2 separate regions of the Homo sapiens genome follow, and region 1 is linked to region 2. The links come from fine-mapping of genetic effects on gene expression. A gene starts in region 2. The other region holds a variant in brackets. All regions are shown on one strand. Distances are between the middles of the regions.

Region 1 (4,395 bases), 50 kb before region 2:
TTGTGGGTGAACCTGAAGGAGCAGAGGAGACAGTAATTCTTTTATTATCTGCAAACTGAGCCAGAGACATGTCAAATGGCCTAGAGTATCTTCTTCAAACTGAAGTGGATATTCTTTAACTCTAGGTTAGACAACAGCAACAATATAAAATTAAAAACAGTCTTGAGAAGTTGCAAGGAGGGGTCATTCACTTCCATTAAATTAAACTGGGCAAAATTGTCTTTTGCAGGGTGTAAGAGATTTATTTCAGAAGTTTATGTCAACAAAGAGTGCAAAATGAGTTCAAGTCAGATTCCACATAGATTTGGAAGAAGGAGAACATACAAATCATAACGAATGAAGTAGGGAAAGGTTTCCTGAGAAGTCACAGCAGTTAAATTCTTTGGGTTATTTTTTCGTTTGATCTGGAGAAGGGAATGCAAGATGACTTACACCTGCAAGGGAGTTAGGCTACGCTGTTTGTTCTTGAGACTCAGGAAAGTCAAAATCTCATTTGAGCTTAGTTGAGGTTTGAGTATTTTTTAGGACTAAAACATGTAAAGTCATGGAAATTCAGAGTTAGGGAGGTCCTTGGGGATCTTCTACTCAATTTATAGATGAGGAAACAGGTCTAGAAAGGTCTATGTCCCAAAGCTAAAAGTGAAGTTCATTTTAGGCTTACACCACTCTCCTCTTAATCTCTCTCTCTTTTTTTTTTTTAAATCTACTTCTCTCCCTTCTTCAATTTGGAAATTCTAAGCCTATTTGAAACTATGTAGTAAGAAAACACCTTAGAAAAGGATAATGGGCTGGACTTCATGTCACAGTTGGAAACACATCTCCAATTGCCAAATGAAATACAATTAGGAAAACAAAGTGCAATAGAAGAACTTACTTCTACTTAAGACAAATTTTCATGAGTGCTTCTGTTTTATGTACCAAGGTATTCCTTTATTTTCCAGAGGTTACCAAATGAAGAGAGTAAAAAGAGCTTTCATATGATTTGACGATGGTAATTTAAGTTCTATTTTAATTTCTATTCCTCAAATCTATACCCCTCCACTCCCAAAGTCAAATGCCACCTATTTGGATTCTACCTCTGTGTACTCAAAGAGAAGCTGGAGACAATGAAAGTTCAAGCATGTAGACTGGCATCTGGAATACTTGGACATTGGCATCTTGATTTGCAAGTCATTAAGGAAATATTTTAAATTATTGTAAGTCAGATTATGTCACTGGCCTTCTAAAAACATGATGGCCTCAGAAGTATCCCCTAGACTTAGGCCTGCTATCACTGACATGAACTGAGAAACATAAAAATTTTTTTTTTTGTTTAAAAATAAACCTCATGCTCTATCCTTCTTTTAAGAAAAAAAATTGTAACTCTCTTTACAACCAAACAAGCACTTGTACAAAAAGTGCTCTCTTGAATTAATTATAGTAGTGAACATTGGAAACTATCTTAATATCCAATAATAAAGTGGTGATTAAGTAAGCCATGGCATATAACCTACATAAAATACATGCAAAGATCAAAAGGGATCATTATGGAAACTGCAGCAATATGGAAATGCTTACTTAATAATTACACATTAAGTATCTACTATATTATAGAACTCTTCTGGGTGATGGAAATAAAGGAGTACTTCAAATAGCTTGCGATATGCTAGAGGAATTAGACATGAATAAGCATTTCAGGAAGAAACGATGGTGAGGACAAAGGTGTGGGGGTGTATTCTGGAAGCTCTAATCCATTCAGTATGACTGGGATGAAAGAGGTAGGAGAGAGATGGAAAGGCAGGCAGGAGCCAAATTAAAGGGGCCTTGGAATTTATTCCGTATATAAAGAGTTGCCATTTTAAGTTTAAACAGGATATAATGCATGACTAATCTATGTATACAGTTATGTTTTCCTTAATTAATTGAATACATTCATATTCATATATTCATTAATTCATTTGTTCATTTAAGTCATATATTCATTAATTCATTTAATTTAAGGATCACTTACTGAGTTTGTACTCACTTTGATGAACACAGGTGATGTAAAAATAAATAAAATACGATTTCTATCTCTGAGCCCTAACAATCTAGTGTTAGGATACTGTCATCTAAGAAAATACTAATACAGTATGATAAGCACTTCAAAGGAGCCCTCTGCAAGGTGCACAGAAACAAATGCTTTGGCAGAGAGTGAACAAAATGGCTTAGATAGTCTTAATAGAGAATGATTATAAGTCTGGAAAACAAAAAACACATTAAAAATTTCAACAAAGAGTCCAGGGGCAGTGGCTCATGCCTGTAATCCCAGCACTTTGGGAGGCCGAGGCAGGTGGATCACAAGGTCAGGAGTTCAAGACCAGCCTGACCAACATGGTGAAACCCCGTCTCTACTAAAAATACAAAAAATTAGCCAGGCGTGGTGGCGGGTGCCTGTAGTC[C/T]CAGCTACTTGGGAGGCCGAGGCAGGAGAATGGCTTGAACCCGGGAGGCAGAGCTTGCAGTGAGCTGAGATCACACCACTGCACTCCAGCCTGGGTGACAGAGCGAGACTCCGTCTCAAAAAAAAAAAATTAGCCAGGTGTGGTAGCGTGTGCCTATAATCCCAGCTACTTGGGAGGCTGAGGCAGAGAATTGCTTGAACCTGGGAGGTGGAGGTTGCAGTGAGCCAAGATTGCACCAATGTACTCCAGCCTGGGCAACAGAGCGAGACTGTCTCAAAAAAAAAAAAAAAATTCAACCAAGAAAATTTAATATAGGGAATTGGTTAACCAGGTCTGGAGAACTAAAAAGGCACAATGGGCACACTGAGGTTTCACAGAGGCAGTAACTTGAGGAAGCAGCTGCATCCCCCTAGGTCTGAGTAAGCAAAAGGAAGAGATTGGGGTTATCTGAATTTAGAAGCTTGAAGACATCCTCATAGACATAAGACTCAGACCTCAGGGAAGGGGACATTAGCTGGTAGTGCTTGTGTTTCTGAGGAAGGTGGGATGAAACCTGGTTATGAGAGTGCCAAGAAGCTGGATACTGGAAACAGCGGCTGCTGTCAGGATGAAGGGTCATTAGTGGGTAACATGGACAGGAACAGCAAGCAAATAGAAAGGAACGAGTCCCTTCATCCTCTCTTGCCTCATGGTCTTTCTTTAGTGTCCCACACAGACAGAAACCAAAAGGAATTCTGCTGGCAAAAGAGAAAGGTGGTTTGCATAGTCCCAACCCCAGCATCACAAAACAAGGTAGACAAAGGTGGGTTTGGAGATGACAGAAAATAGCTTAATCTCTAGCACAAGAGTTTAAAATCTTTTAAAGTGAGGAGGCTGGCTTAAGGAAGGGCATTTCAGGCAGAAGGGAACCACATGTGCAAAGACATGATGCCATCCAAGTGCTTGGTGCTCTTGGGAATTACATGTACTGAAAGCAGTTGTAGCTGGAATACGAAATAAATTGGGGAACTATCGAGAAGTACAATTGAAACTATAGAAAGGGACCTTGTGTTCTGAGGGGCAGGGAATTCCATGTTAAGAGGAAAGCAGGATAATATTTTTAAAAATCTCATTGTATTTTTCCTTTTCAGTAATTTCAGGAGTTTTTTCAACCTTACAGCCATTAAAAACAGATAGATTCTGAGGCTTTTTATCATAGAAAAGCAAAGTACTATATTTGATACAGCATAGAACAAAGAGGTCATTGCTTAGATTTTTGAATTTCAAAACAGTTTTTTAAGTCTCTAGGGATACAAAATATCCCAAGGGCAAGCTCTTTTGGCTTGCAGAAGTCTGACTTTTTGAGACAGAAAGATTGATTCAAACTCCAAAGTTTTATCAAGAGGAGAAATGAAAACCAAAGTTTATTCTCAGTATCCAGAGTAGGGATACACAGGATAGGATATAAGGTAAGTTTCTTTCTCACAGGACAAAAGAAAAGCCTTCAGCAGCTGAGGAGGAACCAACCACAATGTAAAATTCTAGTGTTGTCACTGTGTTCATTTCTGCACTCCACCTCTGGGCTAAACCTGGTTGGGTTGAAGGAGTGTGTATAAGGATGTGAAAACATCCTAAGACATTTAGCAAGAAATCCCAGAACAAAAAGTGTATTCCTCAATCCCCCAGCTGCAGCCTGTTCGAAATACCTGCTCCTCAGAGAAGCCCTGTGTTGACATGGTGTCACAATGGTACCTTAAGATGGGTATAGGTAGTGGATCACAAGACAACATACGCATTTTAGAATCAGTCTGCTGATTTTAAATGAATATCCTATTTGGATTTTTACTAGAATTGCATTGAATCCATTCAATCTCAACCCACTTCATTCTGGCTTCAGTTGCCAGGATGCCACTGAAATTGATCTTGTCAAAATCACCAAAAATCCCCAAAAAAGCCATATCAAATGCAGTGGCTTTTTCTTCATTCTCATTTTACT
Region 2 (4,395 bases):
AAAAGAAGTTAACAGCAGCTTAATTTGGCTATTACTGGATAATTTTTAAAAGTCGAAGTAAAAAGTGAAAATTAGCTCAATTAAAAACTAATGGGGTAACCCAAAACTTTATTTAATATGCCCAATGATGGGATTATTTTAAATTGTACTTCAATTCTAGTATGGACAGTAATGGGGTGGGAAGACAGAGGGAGGGCAAGTGAGAAACCTGAAAAGGGAGAGACCAAGACAAAACACCAACATAGGGCACAGGATTCGTGGCTTTTTTTTTTTTCTTAAACCTATTTTGTAACATCTTGTCACAACACTTCCTTTGCACTATCTTCTTTCAGGAATAACACTTTTTGCTGCTACGCTTTAAAAAATGTCATTCATCACAACTTAACTCTTATCCTTTGAAATTCTTACTGGGGTCTACTGCTTTCCAACTTTCTTTTTCTTTGTTTTCTTTTTTTAAGAGACAGGGTCGGGCTCTGTCACCTAGACTGGAGTGCAGTGGCCAGATCATAGACTGCAGCCTCAAATTCCTGGGCTCAAGTGATCCTCTCACCTAGGCCTTTCTGAGTAAAGACTACAGGTGTGTGTCACCACACCATGCTAATTTTTTTTTTTTTTATAGTGACAGAGTCTCACTATATTGCCCAGGCCAGTCTCAAACTCCTGGCTTCAAGAGATCCTCCTGCCTCAGCCTGCCAAAGCTCTGGGATTATAGGCATGAACCACCACGCCCAGCCCAACTTTCTATGATAATGAAAATGTTCAGTATCTATGGTGTATCATACATTACCTACATGACTACTGAGTACTTAAAATATGGCTAATGCAATATAGCAATGGAATTTTTAAACATACTTCATTTTAGTGAAATTAGTTACATGAGGCCACCTTACTGGACAGTGCAGGTCTAAGGGAAATTTACAGTGGAAAGGAAATTGGTCTCAAAGGCAATATGCAGACAAATAAACACAGATGAAATTAAACCAAGGAGTGAACTGCAGCCTTTGAGCTGGATTTTCTCCCATCCTTAAAGTGTTGCCTTTCCTTATCCTATAAACAAAGTACTCAATAAAGAAAACTAGCCTCAGAACAGAGTGATCTTGCATTAGGTGTGCAAATTCCTGTCCCAGATAGGTACCAGTTTTGGTGCCCTGTATCTAAACTTCCATTATCACAAAATGAGAGCAGTCCTACCCTCACTATCTCTCAGATAAATATGACGAGGATGAATAGCTCTGAAAGTTATTTGGGCTTCTCATAAGCATGTTATAGTTGACCACTTGGTTGACTGTCCTCTAGGCCTCTTAATCCTTTCTTCTTTGAGGGAGTGGAAACAGAAAATCAAGGGTAGGCATTGGGGCAAAAATATCAGTCAGGTTAAATGTACAAGATACATCTACTAGACTTTTTTTTTTTTTTTTTTTTTTGAGACTGAGTCTTGGTCTGTCGCCCAGGCTGGAGTGCAGTGGCATTATCTCGGCTCAGGGTAAGCTCTGCCTCCCAGGTTCACGCCATTCTCCTGCCTCAGCCTCCCGAGTAGCCCAAGTAGCTGGGACTACAGGCGCCCGCCACCACGCCCGGCTACTTTTTTGTATTTTTAGTAGAGACGGGGTTTCACCGTGTTAGCCAGGATGATCTCGATCTCCTGACCTTGTGATCTGCCCGCCTTGGCCTCCCAAAGTGCTGGAATTACAGGCCCGAGCCACCGCGCCCAGCCACATCTACTAGACTTTTTAGTGCCAAGGAACAAGGCACTAGTGTTCAGTACTTCCTGGTGTCATTAATTAGTAGTTATCAATAAGCAGTTTGGTGTACCGATACTGCTCTGCGTCATTTAATCACTTCTCTAAATCTATAGGTTCAATTAATTTTCTTTGTATTTACTTAATCTTATTTTATTCAATAGCAAACCAGTCTCTTTGCCTGCTACAGAGCCATCGATGTTTTCTTTGGTTCTTGGAAGAACTGTACTTCGACCTTATATAATCCTCAGAAAGGCAAGATCTGGACTACGAATGAGTCACCTGCTAATTACACCAATGGCTGCTCCTGCCTTGACCAGTCACAGAGTATCACCCTATCTCGGTATGCTGCTCTGCTTGTCGCGTAGTAGGTCTATAAATACTTGTTTTATGAATGAATGTATGAACAAAGGGAAGTTAGTCACGTGTAAGGGTGGGTAGCCTGCGATAAATAAAGTGTAGACTAGGAGGTCTCAAAATACTTTTTGAACTAAGCCCTTAATCTTCACTACTTTGGACTAGAATGGAAATGTCACCAACGCCTTCCCAATTAATTTGTCCTGGCTGTAATGACTGAAACCAGAACTTCCCTTTACACCCATGACCTCTACAGGCATCTCTTTTTCCTCTGCTCAAGAACAGTAACTGCTCACTGCTGTGTCTACCACATAGGCCCCAGAGCAAGGGGTGATAGGTAGGGCTATAGGCTCCCGACTCCCGACTCCCGGCAGTGCCTCTCTCCAACCCCCCACGAGGCTGGGACAGCTCCCTCCATCTCAGCAGTCGCTACCAAGCACCCGACCCACTCTCGCCCACCTCATCCCTCGATCCCCTTCCCTCCCTCTCACAGCATTCCGCGTAAGACTAGCCCAGCCTTCCGAGCCCCACCACCAGTTTTCCCACTTCCGCCCGGCGCGTGAGACCCTGGGCGGTGCAGGGGAGCGTTGACGACAGACGTGGGCCGTGACGTCGCCGCGCCCTGACGTCCAGCCGACTGGCGGCGCGGTCGCCCGGGAGACCGGGAAAGCCGTTTCACACCCGTCCTAGTCGAAGTCGAGGTGAGGGACGATGGCTTTCCTCAGCCTGGGATGACCCGGTCCTCCAAATGCAGTTCCGGAGTGGAGGCGTGCTCGCACCCGGGGAGAGAGCCAGAAAGCTGAGCCGCGGCGCCCCAGCGAGAGCACGAGGCCCCGGGTCTGGACTCCGCCACCACGCTCCTCTGCGGCCCCTTCCTGGTGTCTGCCAGCCCGCGGGGCCCAGGCGCGGTCCGCCTTCCTCCCAGCCCCGGGGAACGCGCGGCTCTGCTTCCTCACCCCCGCACCCTCCTCCTCCTCCTCTTCCGGCCACTGCAGGTCCAGGGGGAACGGGGTTAGAAAGGGACAGATTTGAAAGCCATTCCAGCAGTTTTGTCTGGCCTTGCGGTTGGTTTCTGTGTGGAAGAGCCTGCCGCTTCAGGAAAGTCTTAGGATGTGAACTCCCGCCTTCACCTGCCCCTGACCTGCTCGTTGTGGGTGATTCACGCCATGGGAATGGTTCTTTACGTAAGGGCTTGAAAGCTGAACGTGAGTTAATGGCCTGACGTGACACTAGTGTGAGAAACGGAATTGGAAACGAACAAGGACGTGTCTGCATTTTAAAAAATGTCTTTTCGGTGATCTTGTTAGAGAGGAGGTTCACAAACACCCACGTAGCTGCAGCCACTTATCACTGCACCTCTTGCCAAAGTGCGGTCCACATACGTGCAATGAGAAAGGATTAAAGGGACTTGTTTGATAACACACGCAAAACTATGTAAGACTAAATTTAAAAAATTACAGATTTTCCCTGTTGCCAAAAGGGAAAGACCCTTCTTTTTTCTTGAGAAACTTAGTATTTGTGAATGCTTCCTCTATTTAATATGTATGCAAATGTTTTTAAAGACCTAGGAATGCTTTTCTTGAGGACCTGGAAGCCATTTCTTTAAAATGTAAACATCAAGGAAGATAGGGCCCCAGTCTCCTTGTCACTTTGGGAGTTTAACCTAGGTGCGTTATTCCTAATTGTAAACACCTGTTTCGTTATGGAGCTGTGCATTACTTAGGAGGAAAGCCGTTAGCTAACACAGGTGGTTACCCCAATTACCAGATGAATTAAAGAGGAAATATAAAAGAATGTATAGAACACTATGTTAAGCCCTCTTACATGAGGACACGTTACCAGTTTCCTTGAGAATGTGTAATGGATTGTGTCTCCTTGGCTGTATAAAAGAGGGATTTCCTTCTCTCTTTGTAACCTCATTAGCAGATTAGCCGTGATGTGCATCAAAGTCTAGTTGAATGCCTAATAAAATTGTTGTCTTTCTGCATTGTGGAGCATTTTCTGGGTTGGCAGGACTTTTAATTTTTAGTTTCCCCCCGATAATCAGAACCTGCCAATTCCTCCCCTTCTTATGCTAAGGCCATAAAGTTGGAATAGATTCACAGACAATGAAGGCACTACACAAAAACTGTTCTACTGGTGCTTTGTTTATACTGTCATTTAGATCCGTGCTCTCAGATAACTTTATGGGTGAAATTTTAAAAGGATGTTTAGATGGTAATTTTTTGGAAAATTCTCCCAATAGAGTTGAAGTTACTATTTCATTTTACTGATGGCAAATCCACCATTAAATGACAGA

What was found. PIP is the estimated chance that this variant, and not a neighbour inherited with it, causes the effect. A credible set is the group of variants that fine-mapping cannot tell apart.
Region 1: its variant is the best candidate, but not a certain one, in a credible set for the expression of LEKR1 in prefrontal cortex (BrainSeq, PIP 0.86).

What each region holds. Positions count from the first base shown.
Region 1 is chr3:156,773,382-156,777,776 of GRCh38, forward strand. All of the region lies in intron 1 of LINC00886 (long intergenic non-protein coding RNA 886), which reads right to left. Among named protein-coding and RNA genes, the nearest start is that of LINC00886, 41 kb to the right of the region's middle. The variant C/T (reference allele first, on the strand shown) is at 2,421.
Region 2 is chr3:156,823,580-156,827,974 of GRCh38, forward strand. LEKR1 (leucine, glutamate and lysine rich 1) reads left to right here and starts at 2,774. Exons shown (of 13, transcript NM_001004316.3): 1 at 2,774-2,797. RefSeq lists an enhancer at 3,247-3,306 and a silencer at 3,621-3,915.